Regions from separate parts of the Homo sapiens genome. Here region 2 is linked to region 1. A link means that fine-mapping ties the variant in region 1 to the expression of a gene that starts in the linked region. Tissue or cell type: subcutaneous fat. Region 1 holds a variant in brackets; the other region holds the start of a gene. All regions are shown on one strand. Distances are from middle to middle.

Region 1 (8,508 bases):
AATTTTTGTATAAGGTGTAAGGAAAGGATCCAGTATCAGCTTTCTCTATATGGCTAGCCAGTTTTCCCAGCACCATTTATTAAATAGGGAATCCTTTCCCAATTGCTTGTTTTTGTCAGGTTTGTCAAAGATCAGATGGTTGTAGATATGTGTCATTGTTTCTGAGGGCTCTGTTCTGTTCCATTGATCTATATCTCTGTTTTGGTACCAGTACCATGCTGTTTTGGTTACCGTAGCCTTGTAGTATAGTTTGAAGTCAGGTAGCGTGATGCCTCTGGCTTTGTTCTTTTGGCTTAGGATTGACTTGGCGATGCGGGCTCTTTTTTGGTTCCATATGAACTTTAAAGTAGTTTTTTCCAATTCTGTGAGGAAAGTCATTGGTAGCTTGATGGGGATGGCATTGAATCTATAAATTACCTTGGGCTGTATGGGCATTTTCACAATATTGATTCTTCCTACCCATGAGCATGGAATGTTCTTCCATTTGTTTGTATCCTCTTTTATTTCATTGTGCAGTGGTTTGTAGTTCTCCTTGAAGAGGTCCTTCACATCCCTTGTAAGTTGGATTCCTAGGTATTTTATTCTCTTTGAAGCAATTGTGAATGGTAGTTCACTCATGATTTGACTCTCCGTTTGTCTGTTATTTGTGTATAAGAATGCTTGTGATTTTTGTACATTGATTTTGTATCCTGAGACTGCTGAAGTTGCTTATCAGCTTAAGGAGATTTTGGGCTGAGACAATGGGGTTTTCTAGATATACAATCATGTCATCTGCAAACAGGGACAATTTGACTTCCTCTTTTCCTAATTGAATGCCTTCATTTCCTTCTCCTGCCTAATTGCCCTGGTCAGAACTTCCAACACTATGTTGAATAGGAGTGGTGAGAGAGGGCACCCCTGTCTTGTGCCAGTTTTCAAAGGGAATGCTTCCAGTTTTTGCCCATTCAGTATGATATTGGCTGTGGGTTTGTCATAGATAGCTCTTATTATTTTGAGATACGTCCCATCAATAGATAATTTATTGAGAGTTTTTAGCATGAAGGGTGGTTGAATTTTGTCAAAGGCCTTTTCTGCATCTATTGAGATAATCATGTGGTTTTTGTCTTTGGCTCTGTTTATATGCTGGATTACATTTATTGATTTGCATATGTTGAACCAGCCTTGCATCCCAGGGATGAAGCCCACTTGATCATGGTGGATAAGCTTTTTGATGTGCTGCTGGATTCATTTTGCCAGTATTTTATTGAGGATTTTTGCATCAATGTTCATCAAGGATATTGGTCTAAAATTCTCTTTTTTGTTTGTGTCTCTGCCAGGCTTTGGTATCAGGATGATGCTGGCCTCATAAAATGAGTTAGGGAGGATTTCCTCTTTTTCTATTGATTGGAATAGTTTCAGAAGGAGTGGTACCAGCTCCTCCTTGTACCTCTGGTAGAATTCAGCTGTGAATCCATCTGGTCCTGGACTTTTTTTGGTTGGTAAGCTATTGATTATTGCCACAATTTCAGATCCTGTTATTGGTCTATTCAGAGATTCAACTTCTTCCTGGTTTAGTCTTGGGAGGGTGTATGTGTCGAGGAATTTATCCATTTCTTCTAGATTTTCTAGTTTATTTGCGTAGAGGTGTTTGTAGTATTCTCTGATGGTAGTTTGTATTTCTGTGGGATCAGTGGTGATATCCCCTTTATCATTTTTTATTGCATCTATTTGATTCTTCTCTCTTTTCTTCTTTATTAGTCTTGCCAGCGGTCTATCAGTTTTGTTGATCTTTTCAAAAAACCGGCTCCTGGATTCATTAATTTTTTTGAAGGGTTTTTTGTGTCTCTATTTCCTTCAGTTCTGCTTTGATTTTAGTTATTTCTTGCCTTCTGCTAGCTTTTGAATGTGTTTGCTCTTGCTTTTCTAGTTCTTTTAATTGTGATGTTAGGGTGTCAATTTTGGATCTTTCCTGCTTTCTCTTGTGGGCATTTTGTGCTATAAATTTCCCTCTACACACTGCTTTGAATGTGTCCCAGAGATTCGGGTATGTTGTGTCTTTGTTCTCGTTGGTTTCAAAGAACATCTTTATTTCTGCCTTCATTTCGTTATGTACCCAGTAGTCATTCAGGAGCAGGTTGTTCAGTTTCCATGTAGTTAAGCGGTTTTGAGTGAGTTTCTTAATCCTGAGTTCTAGTTTGATTGCACTGTGGTCTGAGAGACAGTTTGTTATAATTTCTGTTCTTTTACATCTGCTGAGGAGTGCTTTACTTCCAACTATGTGGTCAATTTTGGAATAGGTGTGGTGTGGTGCTGAAAAGAATATATATTCTGTTGATTTAGGGTGGAGAGTTCTGTAGATGTCTATTAGGTCCGCTTGGTGCAGAGCTGAGTTCAATTCCTGGGTATCCTTGTTAACTTTCTGTCTCGTTGATCTGTCTAATGTTGACAGTGGGGTGTTAAATTCTCCCATTATTATTGTGTGGGAGTCTAAGTCTCTTTGTAGGTCACTAAGGACTTGCTTTATAAATCTGGGTGCTCCTGTATTGGGTGCATATATATAGTTAGCTCTTCTTGTTGAATTGATCCCTTTACCACTATGTGATGGCCTTCCTTGTCTCTTTTGATCTTTGTTGGTTTAAAGTCTGTTTTACCAGAGACTAGGATTGCAACCCCTGTCTTTTTTTGTTTTCCATTTGCTTGGTAGATCTTCCTCCATCCCTTTATTTTGAGCCTATGTGTGTCTCTGCATGTGAGATGGGTTTCCTGAATACAGCACACTGATGGGTCTTGACTGTTTATCCAATTTGCCAGTCTGTGTCTTTTAAATGGAGCATTTAGCCCATTTACATTTAAAGTTAATATTGTTATGTGTGAATTTGGTCCTGTCATTATGATGTTAGCTGGTTATTTTGCTTGGTAGTTGATGCAGTTTCTTCCTAGCCTTGATGATCTTTACATTTTGGCATGTTTTTGCAGTGGCTGGTACTGGTTGTTCCTTTCCATGTTTAGTGCTTCCTTCAGGAGCTCTTTTAGGGCAGGCCTGGTGGTGACAAAATCTCTCAGCATTTGCTTGTCTGTAAAGGATTTTATTTCTCCTTCACTTATGAAGCTTAATTTGGCTGGATATGAAATTCTGGGTTGAAAATTCTTTTCTTTAAGAATGTTGAATATTGGCCCCCACTCTCTTCTGGCTTGTAGAGTTTCTGCCGAGAGATCTGCTGTTAGTCTGATGGGCTTCCCTTTGTGGGTAACCTGACCTTTCTCTCTGGCTGCCCTTAACATTTGTTCCTTCATTTCAACTTTGGTGAATCTGACAATTATGTGTCTTGGAGTTGCTCTTCTCGAGGAGTATCTTTGTGGCATTCTCTGTATTTCCTGAATCTGAATGTTGGCCTGCCTTGCTAGATTGGGGAAGCTCTCCTGGATAATATCCTGCAGAGTTTTTTCCAGCTTGGTTCCATTCTCCCTGTCACTTTCAGGTACACCAATCAGATGTAAATTTGGTCTTTTCACATAGTCCCATATTTCTTGGAGGCTTTGTTCATTTCTTTTTATTCTTTTTTCTCTAAACTTCCTTCTCGCTTCATTTCATTCATTTCGTCTTCCATCACTGATACCCTTTCTTCCAGTTGATCACATCGGCTCCTGAGGCTTCTGCATTCTTCACGTAGTTCTCGAGCCTTGCCTTTCAGCTCCACCAGCTCCTTTAAGGACTTCTCTGCATTGGTTATTCTAGGTATCCATTCATCTAACTTTTTTTCCAAAGTTTTTAACTTCTTTGCCATTGGTTTGAATTTCCTCCTGTAGCTCAGAGTAGTTTGATCATCTGAAGTCTTCTCTCAGCTTGTCAAAGTCATTCTCCATCCAGGTTTGTTCCATTGCTGGTGAGGAGCTGCGGTCCTTTGGAGGAGGAGAGGC[G/T]CTCGCTTTTTAGAGTTTCCAGTTTTTCTGCTCTGTTTTTTCCCCATCTTTGTGGTTTTATCTACTTTTGGTCTTTGATGATGGCGATGTACAGATGGATTTTTGGTGTGGATGTCCTTTCTGTTTGTTAGTTTTCCTTCTAACAGACAGGACCCTCAGCTGCAGGTCTGTTGGAGTTTGCTAGAGGTCCACTCCAGACCCTGTTTGCCTGGGTATCAGCAGCGGTGGCTGCAGAACAGCGGTGGCTGTAGAACAGCGGTGGCTGTAGAACAGCAGTGGCTGTAGAACAGTGGATATTGGTGATCTGCAAATGCTGCTGCCTGATCGTTCCTCTGGAAGTTTTATTTCAGAGAAGTACCCGACCATGTGAGGTGTCAGTCTGCCCCTACTGGGGGGTGCCTCCCAGTTAGGCTGCTCGGGGGTCAGGGACCCACTTGAGGAGGCAGTCTGCCCGCTCTCAGATCTCCAGCTGCATGCTGGGAGAACCACTACTCTCTTCATAGCTGTCAGACAGGGACATTTAAGTCTGCAGAGGTTACTGCTATCTTTTTGTTTGTCTGTGCCCTGCCCCCAGAGGTGGAGCCTACAGAGGCAGGCAGGCCTCCTTGAGTTGTGGTGGACTCCACCAAGTTCGAGCTTCCCGGCTGCTTTATTTACCTAATCAAGCCTGGGCAATGGCAGGCGCCCCTCCCCCAGCCTCACTGCTGCCTTGCAGTTTGATCTCAGACTGCTGTGTTAGCAATCAGCGAGACTCCGTGGGTTTAGGACCCTCTGAGCCAGGTGTGGGATATAATCTCCTGGTGTGCCATTTTTTTAAGCCCATTGGAAAAGCGCAGTATTAGGGTGGGAGTGACCTGATTTTCCAGGTACCATCTGTCACCCCTTTCTTTGACTAGGAAAGGGAACTCCCTGACCCCTTGCGCTTCCCGAGTGAGGCAATGCCTCGCCCTGCTTTGGCTCGCACCCAGTGTGCTTCACCCACTGTCCTGCACACACTGTCTGGCACTCCCTAGTGAGATGAACCCGGTACCTCAGATGGAAATGCAGAAATCACCCATCTTCTGCGTTGCTCACGCTGGGAGCTGTAGACCGGAGCTGTTCCTATTTGGCCATCTTCCTTCTAATCTTAGTTCTAACCACTTATCTTCGTGAACACTGTGTTTTATCCAGCCTAGGCTTCCTGTAATCTTCTGCCTGTTGAAATTCTAATCTCTCCATCACAGTCTAGCTTAAATTTTCTTTCCTTTCATGAAGGCTTCCTTGATTCTGTTAATTGGATAAATGTATTCTGGATTTTTCTTATGACAACATATTTGAGCCTATACTGTGGTCACTTGTGTACTTCTCTTTTCACCCCTATAGGATCCTAGTTCCTCAGGGGTTGAACTGTGTTTGCTATTATCTATGCAGCTGGGAGTTATGTAGCACAGTGCAATGCACATAATGATAACTTTAAAAGTAAAAATGATTTTTATTTCTAGGCACTGTCAAGTTATGTGGTCCATGTCCTCAATATGTCTTCAGTCTATTAATAGTAAGGGAAACAAAACTAGAATTCAAAAGTTAGCTAGAGAACAATCAAGAGCTCAACCACGAGAATAATCAGAGGAGAGAGAGAGCAGGAGGCAAGCAGTGAATAGAGAAGGACTGAGAGAAAAGGTAAGACCTGAATGTGACCCTGAAAAGCGAAGAAAGTGGCTTAAGTGGGAGGGGGTGTTCCAAGGTAGGAAAGCATGAGTGAAGGCTCTGGAGCAGGGATGGGCATGGCTGGTCTGGGAAGAAGGATGGCACTTTAGGAGAGGAAAAAAATACCAGGGAAGTTCAGGGCATTTCAAAGTAAAACAATTCCTTCAAATTTATAGTGTCATTGTTTTAAAAATTTCTCATGATAAGGTTCTGTGTGATAATTTCATTAAAAATTTCTCATGATAAAGTTCTGTGTGATAACTAGCTTCTCCCAAGTTAGTTGCAAGGAGTGAGTTTTTACTATGTATTCTTATACTGCTATATAATTGCTAGAATTCATCACTGAGTATCTGAATTACAGTGTGTAGCAATATGCTGGCAAACTGCTTTCTTTTTTGTTTTTTAACTGCCGTCATGTTTTGCAGTTTCGATTCTCAACACAGCCTGGGGAAGACAGTAAGAAATTATCTCATGGATTAGAATTTAGAACTCTAAAACAAACAGTCATTGTTACAATAGACTTTGTATATGTTAAAGAAGTTTCTTCATTTTCATTTATTCATACAAAATTAGTGATATGATTACCCCCGCTGTTGTTCCACGAAGGGAGATGTTCACCAATGTGTAATGAAAATATGAAGCTCATTTACTTGTTATACGTGTAATCTAATCCAGATTGAAAACTGTTCTATGGAGATTGACAAATATTGGTTGTGATAAATTATTACATAGACATATTCCCACTAATGCACTAACAGAAAAAAAAAAGTGAAAATTGACAAATTCATTTTGAATAATCACTTTAAAAGCCAGAAAATAGCAGAAGGGAAGGGATTTTAAAAGTATCCATTTTTTACTACATGTCATTTTTAGGGAAAAGTAAGACACCAAAACATTTTAAAATTAAAGCATTAACTGGTTTTCCATTTGCTAAACTCTTTTTGATATGAATGATAAATCATTTTTTCCTTAAGACTACAGCATTGCTAATTTTCTCCATATGTGTACAATTTGTCTTTGACCTTTAACAAATGTCCTCTAGGCAGTCCACTTACCATCCAAGAACAACGCCACAACATCATTTTACTTGCACACAAAGACTTGAAAGCTTCATAAAAATAAATGATCCGTGGCGTAAGATACATTAACCAGCAGAATAATAAGCTATTTCAGCCCTGTAAATTTTAGCACCCGTCTATTCAAAAACCTCACTGGGTCACTTTAGTATTAAATTCATAGGAGTAAAATGGTAACTACACATGCTTTATTTGTTAAGGTGCCAGCCATATATTTTGTGAAAAAGTTTGTTAGCCTAGGATATTTAAAAGCAATGTCTCTTTCCAATAAATGATTTTATGTGTTACAGACACATTTAGTATTAAGCATCATGTATATTTAATATCACAATGTCTACTTCAGTGTCCCAAAAAGCCTTTATTCACTTTATAGTTTCCATTACTGAAGAGCCAACTTTCGGTTCTCCCACAATTGTGTAAAGTGCAGGCAAGCCACAAGAGCTTCTAGTTTTAGCTTGCAGCCCGTGGGACCACGATAATTGTTATGAAGCCATTAATTCTACCTCAGCAGTTTCAACTGTCAGGTACATGTAACAATAATTGCACTTAATGAATGCTGCTCAATTTATTAAGTACAAAATGAAAACCAGTATTCTTTTATATGCAGCACTGAGGCACATTATTTATCATTTGTGTATACCATGTTGAATATTCTACTATCATTTATTGGTCAGGGTATATAGCCATAGTTTTTCTAAAGCTTCTTTTTATTAAAAAACAATGCAGGAAATTGTAACACTCTAATTAAAGAATAATTAAAATAATTAGTACCAAAACAAATATTTAATAAGAATCTATGTCTATGGAAAGCAATCCAGCAAAACCAAGATCAAGTTCCTGCTTTAGATAAACAAGATTCTTTCTGTGGCTACCCTCCCCTCCCCAAATCTTTACTAGAATATGAAAAAATTCAAAAGCTTCCAGTTGCTTGAAATATCAGTGTTGTTTCTTTCTCAAAGTTTTTGGCAGTAAAACTTTTGTGTACAGACATACAGCCTGCCTCAGAATTTTCAAAAGTAAGAGCTAGATTTCTTATTTTCAATCACTCAAGGTAAACTGCATAGACATTTGCAAGAGCGAAGAGAGAAGAATTTCTGAAAACATAAGATGAAAAGGTATCACTTTTAGGATCCCAGAGGCATCTGCTTCCAATAAGTATGCTCTGCCTGTTCAGTTGTCCAATGTGAACAATCACAATTAGTTTATACCGTGGAATCATCAAGTCCTTGACCTGGGCTTTAATAACCTAGAAATTTAAAAAAAGGGAGGGTCTTCATTCAGCTACATTGAAACTCAAAAGCATTAACCTTTGTTATAAATATAAGGGATTTAATTTAATAGCATGATGCATTGTAGATACTTTCAGTGATTGTTTTAGAACCGTAAGTATGATTCCCTTCAAGCATGGTCCCCTTGAGATAGAACATTCAGGAACAAAATTTTAACACCAGCAATAAATCAACCTTTTCTAAGATACATGAAATAATTATAATCCAGAACACAGAATTTAATAAATTACATTCTTTGAAAATTTATGTTAAGATGGCTTCATGTCAAAGAATGTTGGCATTGGAGTTACACTGTCTTGTTCATGTCTAATTAAGAAACCATACATCTGGAGTCTCCTGTAATATAACTAATCATTAATGTTTATTAAAGAGTTTGTTATCAAAAAGAAAGTAGAGGAAACCTTGATGAAGTGCAGCCCTGGGGTTTGTAAAAATAGAAATGTGCTTGAAGACCACAATGTCTGTATTTGATGGCACTCAAAGAAGCTGCCTTAGTGAAGAGAAAATAATCATTAAAATGTTGTATCTTTTACAATAAACACTTTTATAAATGGGGCAGT
Region 2 (8,508 bases), 29 kb after region 1:
GTTTTACATTATTGAAATTTATATTTTCAAAATTGTTTTAAAGTAATTTTCAAATGAAAGTTATATGTTTTTCCATAAAACACTGCAATTTCAAAACAATGCCTGTATTTGATAGTCACTAAGCTTTCAGAATTTTTCTACTAGTTGAAGCCTCATTCATGAAGGAGAATAACTTGTACTGTCTAATTCCAGACAGTGAGGAAGCCAATGGAAAGCAAGTATTAATACAAGTTAGCATGGGGTGGGGGAGCCTCCTAAATAGTCTGCATTGCAAGGGGACTTGGAAGCTGATCATTTGCTATTTAAGAAAAAAAGTACAAATAGAGGTTCCATTCTAAATGTTTTGTTTGGGAGTCCAAAACCAAAATAGTTATCATTTAAATGTAGTTGTCAGTGAAAAATCTATCCTAATGTGTTGATAAATATGATTTTTGTATTCTTATTTTTAATATGTATTTATATTCATCAATAATAGGTTAAAAAGAGTGATCTCTAATTCTTCAAATGTAGCCACACTCTGATTCTATATGACAAATTTGTTTTGAAGGGGAAAAGATAAGTAAAAGTCATGCAAATAGGAATTACAATTTAATCTTTGGAGACAGTATTTAAAAAAATATCATGGGTACGTAATTTATGTCAGACTATTACTTAAATAGTTTCTTGGAAAACGTAAGTTGAATTTAAGCCAACAATCAGTTTTAAATAATTTAAAAAATAACCCTTGCACTTAACTATTGGAAATAGCAGCCAGAAAAGTTTAGAAGCAAAAATTACAAAGATTAATCATTCTCCCACCTTTACTTCTGACATGTGCTGGGATTGCTACTCCTTTATAGTCAGTTTCCCACCTGTAAAAGGCATTGTATGTGTAATCCACAGACTTCCAGGGCTGGAATGTGGAGTTGCAAGTAGGCATTAATACACTCTGAGAATAGAAAGATTTTGGTTTCAGAATTCTAATTATTCCAGTTCTTCTACTCTCTGTTCTGCAGGACACCCTAGCTCCTGCTTCCCAATATATACTCAATATACAACATCCTCCAAAGCTATAGAAACTAAGAACGAAAGTCTATTATTAATTGACTGCTACGTCGATAATTTGTTTTGTTTTCTTCCCAACAGCAGTCAAAAGGAAATGCCATGAAAATATTAAAAATTGATGTATATCTTTAGGAGAGAAGATGCAACATGTAGCAAGAACCAAAAAATCTACTTATTGCCCTTTGACCTACTAATTATTCTTCTGGGAAATGACCAAGCACAGACATATAGTAAAAAAGAAAAAAAATGGAAACAAACTTAAAGTGTCCAATAATTAGAGAATGGTTAAGGAACCCAGAATCATAAATTGACAAAATATTATGCAGTCATTTAAGAGGATATGGAAAAAACTATGAAAATACATGACAAAATTATATACAATAATGTTAAGTACATTGTATATGTATGTATTGATTACAAAAATGCAAAACCTATGTTATAAAATATTGAGGAGAAGAACTCAAAAGACATATAAGCGTGTCTGGTTTACATTGCATGTGGTGTTTCTTTTGAGCAGAGGGTTTTTTGGGATGATTTTTGAAATAGCAAAAATGCTGCTAGGATTAACTTATCACTTAAGCTTTCTCTCTTTCTCTTTCTTTTTAAATATGGCCCCTAAAGATGACCTGCACCTTGTACTTGCCCATTTTATCTCTTTTTATGTCCCCGAGGAAGTGTTTTTTTCTCCTAATAAACATTACGAACCTATTTATTCAATAAATGAATTTACAATTTTAGACAGTTACTCACTCTTTGATGCGCCCATGAATTTCCTTTCGCCAAAATTCATGATTACTTAGAGAAGAAATACTCCCTCTTTTCTTCCATGAATGAGCTGCTCTGCCTTTAGCATTGTCTGACATCATCATAACCTATGGAAGAAGACTTTTGTAAAATAGCAAAAGAAAGATCCGGAAACATTTTAGTTAGTATAACAGGGACTAATCTCAAAGTACACAGATAGTTTTCCTACCATTTTTGAACAGGAAAGTGGGGTTTCCTCAAGAGCAATATATAGAATTTGTTGTTATTCTGATCAGTGAAACTGGAACTATGATAACTCTGAAAATGCTTATTTATGCAATAGTATAATTATTTACATAAGCAGATATTAAGCTATAGCAAAAATGCTTAGCTGATGAAGACGGAGGTCATTGACAAAAGATATGCATGTATAGCAGAAAGATGCTATCCTACATCAGAAACCAATATTTGTATTGCCCCCCAAATGTAACCATAATACAACTTTGCTAATTAATATTTGCTGTCACTGTTATATTTTATTTTTGAGACAGGGTCTTGTTCTGTCACCCAGGTTGGAGTGCAGTGGCATGATCATGGCTCACTACTGCCCCAAACACCTGGGCTCAAGCGTTCCTCCCAACTCAGCCACCTGAGTAGCTGGGACTGCAGGTGTATGCCATCAAGCTGGGCTAATTTTTAATTTTTTGTAGAGATAGGGTCTATGTTGCCCAGGCTGGTCTTGAACTCCTGGGATCAAGCAATCCTGCTTCAGCCTCCCAAAGTGCTGGGATTACAGGCATGAGCCACTCTACCTGGCCTATTTTATTATTTTAGAGACAGGATCTAGCTCTTGTTACCCAGGCTGGAGTGCAGTGGCATGATCATAGCTCACCGTAACTTCAAACTCCTGGGCTCAAGCGGTCCACCCACCTCAGCCTCCCTAGTAGCTAGGACTACAGGCCTGCACCACCATGCCTAGCTAATTTTTAAACATTTTTGTAGAGACAAGATCTTTCTGTGTTGCCCAGGCTGGCCTTAATCTCCTGGCCTTAAGTGATCCTCCTGCCTTGGCCTCCCAAAGTGCTGGAATTACAGGCATCAACCACTGTGCCTGACCCACCATGACTTTAAAAAATAAAATTAGGGGTAGGGAGCTAGAAAATAAATAAATAAATAAAAATTAAAATTAACCTTGCTTTCCCAAAGATTTTTTGTTGTTTGTTTTGTTTTCTCGAGCAACATTTACATAGTTTGTAAAGAGCAAATAGGACTTAACTTTTAAATAAATAATTTATTGGAAAACTCCCTCCTTCCTACTAATACTTGTTAAAAAGCTGGTAGTAGCAATGGACTTCCCAGAACTTGGACTATAACTCTAATAATGCCCTCATTGTCTACCTACAAATTTAAGTATTCATTTAAATTATTTCATAATCTATAAATGTGAGAGCCCCGATAAGGAAATACTGTGCTAGACACCAAAGCATAAAAATAGAAGAGAATCCATGCCTTCAAGGAGCTGGCAGTTGAGTAGGTAGGGCACACAAGAACATACCCTAAAACCCAGTGGCATCAATGTCAGAGCAGAGGTGCTGTGTGTGGGTGAGGCAGGCAGCGTGGTGTGTGTGTGCACGTGAGTGTGAGCGTCCTTGAGTGTGTACCTGTGAGTGTGCATCTCTGTGTGTGCAGGTGCCTGTGTGTATAAGTGTGTCTGTGTTCGTGTGTACGAAGGTGAGTGTGTTTATGAGTGTGGAAAGACACACAGCCTGATTAGGTGGGTCATTCAGGTTTTGCTGCAAAGCCACATAGACCCATCTCGGCCTCAGCTGTTTCCAAAGCTGCCCTGCAGGCCGCCCCCTCCCCAAGAAAGGCCAGAGTTGGGACCTGGAGGTCCTCATGGGTGCGGCCAGCCACAGGAAGACCGCCCCGGGTCAGGGGATGACCTTGCTGGCCGGCTCTGCGTTGGCCATCACTCTTGAAGCCCAGCCCCCAGCCATGCAATGGGGCAGGGGACGAACCGTTGGGACCGACTTTCAGTTCCCAAATTTGGGATCATTTTTTCTTATGTGTTGGGGAGAGGAGGAATAAGGTGGCGGAGAGATCGGGGCCAAGTAGGGCCATTTCTCAACAAAGGGCCGATCCCTTGCCCCCTATCCTTCCTTTGGGGTCCAGACGCGCTGCAGAGAGAGGCGACCCTACCTGCAGCAGGGAGGCTTCGCCCGGAGCCTCCCAGACCTCCGGCACTGCAGACACTGCGCGCGGCGCGGCTCCCGCGTCCCAGGCTTCATTCAGCCGGCGGCCGCCCGCGCACTCTCCCTGGACTCTGAGGCCGGTCTCCAGGGTGACCTCAAACAGAGCCCTCGGCCCTCCCCGGCCGGACTTGGCCGCTGAGTGGCCCTCTGAGCTGCCCTAAGGATGTAGAGGATCTCATCTTCACTGCCCACTGGGGGTCACTCTGAGCCGGGCTGCGTCCTGGGTTGGCGGCGAGCTGGAGGGGAACTGGTTCATTGTGTAGCGAGGAAGACATTTGGGACTAAAGACATTTGCACCCCTAGGGCCCCTCATCAAGTTCCTTTTCCCGCAGACATCAGGGGCAGGAGTGGGAAGTGCTGCGGTTTCCTAGCACAGGAAATCCGAAGCGCAAAGACAAAGTAAAGTAGCCCTGCCCTTTTCCCGGCTCCTAACGCTGCTTCGCACGTTCCCCCTCCAAGGCACAGGCGGTGGAATGTGGAGGTAAATGAGCACTTACATTGGCCAGATACCCCAGATACCGACAAACATTGGGATTTAGTCGTCCCAATAACTCTGTCAAGAAAGGAATGTTTTCCCTTTAAAGGATTTGGAAAATTGAGATTCTAAAATGTTAAATAATATGCCCAAGGCCCCTGAAACTCATGGTCTTAACTCCAATGTGTTACAAACCGGGCTGGGTTCCTTCGCTTTCCTTAACAAGACTCTTCTGAGCCTGTTAATGTCTAAGAAGCTTTGAAATGAGGCTGTTTGGGGTTGAGGACCTACCTGCTGGTATGAATGGGCTTTTCCTCTTCTTCAGCGACTATCCCCAGCCTAAGCCTGGTTTGGGCCTCCCCAAACCAAAAGCAAACAAAATAAACACTATAGGGACCCTCCTGTAGTGGGCAATCATTGGAAGCAGAAACAAGATGCCTCCAAGCATCTAGCCAAGGGCATGGCTCTTGATGAGTGTCCTGCTGGAATTAGCATTAGCTGACAGTAATACATTGGGATTCCGGTGGAGCACAGTGTTAGGATAGTGTTGGAAGAAGAGAAATAGATATTTTTGCCCATCCCAATCTCTACTCACAGAAAGATAAGAACAGGAAAGGATTGTTGATTGAATATCTACTATGGACTAGATAGGAACTGCTAGGTGATGAATAAACATTATCTCATTGAATTTGTTCAGTGACTATGACATAGGGGACATTACTCTATTTTTTTTTAAGATAAGGAAATGTAGAATCGTTGAGTAACATGCTCAAGTCGATATTTAAATCACAGAGCTGAAATTTGTCTAACTCTTAACCCTTGACCTTTGACAGACCTTTGGCCCACCATCCCTACCCTAAACATGGAATGAAGTTTTCCAGAAATGCGGGTAAAATTTTAAGAGGCTGACAGCAAAAGATATTCACAATTCAATTTATTTTCATATTTTTCATTTATTTTCCAGAAAAAGAAATCACATTTCAGTAACAACTTACATATAGAATTAAACTTTGTTCTGGAATGGGAGCCCTAGTTGCAGTAACGTGTCATAATAAATAATTGCATATTCAGGATTTTGTGAAATAGGTGATTGGGAAAATTATGAACAAAAAACATTTACAAAAATTATTATTTACAAAGAGTGATATCCATACTATTTCTAACTTATAAGGCAAGTAATGTTAAGATGGTCTCATGATTATCTTCAACAAGTCAATTACACACTTTCCTGTCACCATTGCCCAGCAGAGAGCTTTGCTGCAATTCTGTGAAGGAGCAAGTAAGTCTTCGCTTCCGTTGTTGGTTTTCTCTTGAGCACAGCATAGAAGCAGTAAAGCTTTCATTACAGACTAAGCAGTAATGGCTGTCAGAAAAAAGTATACTCTTTTGAAATAGACGTGTAGGAAAAAGGCTGGGAATCAACATTTTGACTAAATTTTGAAAGTATCTTGAGTATTTTAATTCACAGTTTTGTAAGTATTTTATGCCCAAGGTATTTTTGTGAAATTATGTACTTAGTACAAGATTAAAAAGAAATTTAGTGTATTTTTGCTACATAGATCAAAGAGAGCTCTAAATAAAGGCTACCACCAAATCAAATTACACACAGCATTTTCCTTAATTGACAGGATTTCATTACCTATAGAAACACAGCAAAATCTTTCTGAGATTCCTAGATTCTTGCATTGTTCAAGTTTAAAAAAAATCAATGCCTTACATGGCCACTTAGTAAGAATGAAAATTAATATCCGAGTATTTAATTCATATGATCTTTTACTATACAAGTGAAAAACAAACAAAAACTCTTTTTAATCGAAAACAATAGTGTTCAAACAGCTTAAAAAGCCAGCTGTATACATTACTGCTTGGCCTGTGGTGAAGCTCTGTTCATAGATAAGATTAATATATCATCATATCAACACTTGGCTTTTTCAAGAAAAATTATTCAGCAGCAATTTTCCAATTCCCCTTAGACAGAGAGGAAAGAGACACACACACACACACACACACACACACACACCCCCACACACACACAGAGAAAGAGAGAGAGAGAGAGAGAGAATATGAATTAGATAGGAGCCAATCTCTTTCATGTATGTCCATTTAACAAAGCAAGAACTAAATTCTGACCTGAAAAATCAACACAGCTATATGAATTATCATTCTAGCAACTTGAAAAGGGAAAAAAATCTGACTTTGGATCTTGGGACAGTGGTTCTTGTGATAGTTACTTGTTGTATGATTTAAAATACCTTAGAGTGATGGTGAATGAATAACATCAAGCATTTACTTTGCGAGAAAAAAAATTCATAAAAGTAATGTAAAACTGAATGAGCGAGATGGAATTAACATTTGTATGATATACTCATTCAATGGAACGTTTAAAAATTATAAATGGCTTATGATCTATCAGGCTGATTCACAAACTCTGGATGGATTAAAAACTGAACTATCTTTAGAGAAATGTAAAGTGATTCAGTTTGATTCTTTTCTATATGATAACAGACAATTTAACCAGGAAGTTTTTAAAGAAACTTCGTTAATTTGGTATAAAAGTAACTGATTGGCAAAGTAAAGCAAAGCAAAAAAAGAAAAAAAAACAGCAAAAAAAAAACCCTATGAAATGCTCATTAAAAGAGTATAGAATCTCACAAAATCTGTGCTAAACAGTGCACTGCTCTTAGCTTTCCCCAAAGTGTTTTTAATATAATTTCTGACAAGCTGATGTAAAAATACTGTCAACATTGATCTATCATGATTCAGTTTCCTAAAGCTGTTTAGTAAAACGTTACTGGAGATTATTCACTGGCATTAATTCCACACGGCAAAGAATTGGAAACATCTTCAACAGATAGGGGTCTGATATGCTGGTCATAGGTGCAAGCCTTAAAAATAATACAAAAATTAAAATAATTTTATTGTTTTGTTTTGAATATTTTAGATGATAAAGTTAAATTCACTAAGAGATACTAATGAAATTTAAAATAGATAACAATTCATTTGAAATGACAGGAATTCTCTTAAAATTAAAACAAAATTCCAGAAGCATTTTTTTCAAAGCATTCCTGGTTATTTTATTTACAATTATTGAAGGATATATAAACTAGTGTTAAAAGAAAACTTTTCCAAAGGTTTCTCAAGGTGTGCTTAGAAAAAATTTTTTTTACCTGATTCAATAACTTTCTTAAGCTTCATTAAAACACTAACATTTATTGTCAATGTCCAAGGAGAGAGAATTATAGTATAGGACCATTTGTTCTCAGACCACAATGAACATCTTCCAGAACACAATTTGTAAAATACTGGAATATTGGTGAGCATAGCCCAAATACACTTTACTTCTTTTCTTTAAAACATTACGGGACATTTAAAAATATATTTGTTTTTTGCCAAAACATTTTTTACAAGGATAAAGATGTATTTAAGGTAGGCAAGGTATTACTCTAGGGATAGAAGGAGGCAGTTAGAAATCAAAGGAAAAATAATTTTAGAAGTTAAACCTAGAGAATAAATTATTATACCCATGGTCAATGCCAACAAATAGGTGTCTTTTCCTCATAGACATACCCATTTAGGAGAGAAATCAGATATTAAATGTGAGGGCCAATCAAGAGGTTCACCATGGTCAACTCAACAGACTTTACATTTGACATTCCTTCATGAAATATATTTAGATCTTAATTAGATGTCAGCAGTGCAACTCTAGCTTGCAGAAGATGACAGAACATTGAAGCAATGACACAAGAGAAAGGCAAGTGTTTTGTTGTTGTTTTTAATATTTAGAGACTTAAGCAATGTACTCCTATCTCATTTTCCTTCCATACACTCCACTGACAAAAAGGAACATTAATGGTAGCCATATTTAATTCATAAGTGAGAGAATGGCATTTAGATACTGTTTTCCACATGAAAAAAAAGCCTAAAGGAGCAGGGAAAATACAATAAAACCTTAAGAGGAAAGTGCACACAGTAAAAGATGGTGAGGCTGGTCAT

Evidence for each region. PIP is the estimated chance that this variant, and not a neighbour inherited with it, causes the effect.
Region 2: it holds the start of DYNLT5, and the variant in region 1 is fine-mapped to the expression of DYNLT5 in subcutaneous fat (GTEx, PIP above 0.99).

Annotation. Positions count from the first base shown.
Region 1 is chr1:66,776,648-66,785,155 of GRCh38, reverse strand. DYNLT5 (dynein light chain Tctex-type family member 5) reads right to left here. Exons shown (of 5, transcript NM_152665.3): 5 at 6,109-7,905. The coding sequence ends at 7,702. Among named protein-coding and RNA genes, the nearest start is that of INSL5, 20 kb to the left of the region's middle. The variant G/T (reference allele first, on the strand shown) is at 3,898.
Region 2 is chr1:66,748,064-66,756,571 of GRCh38, reverse strand. It overlaps DYNLT5 (dynein light chain Tctex-type family member 5), which reads right to left and starts at 4,113. Exons shown (of 5, transcript NM_152665.3): 1 at 3,988-4,113; 2 at 1,795-1,916. The coding sequence starts at 1,913. SGIP1 (SH3GL interacting endocytic adaptor 1) reads right to left here. Exons shown (of 25, transcript NM_032291.4): 25 at 5,433-8,508.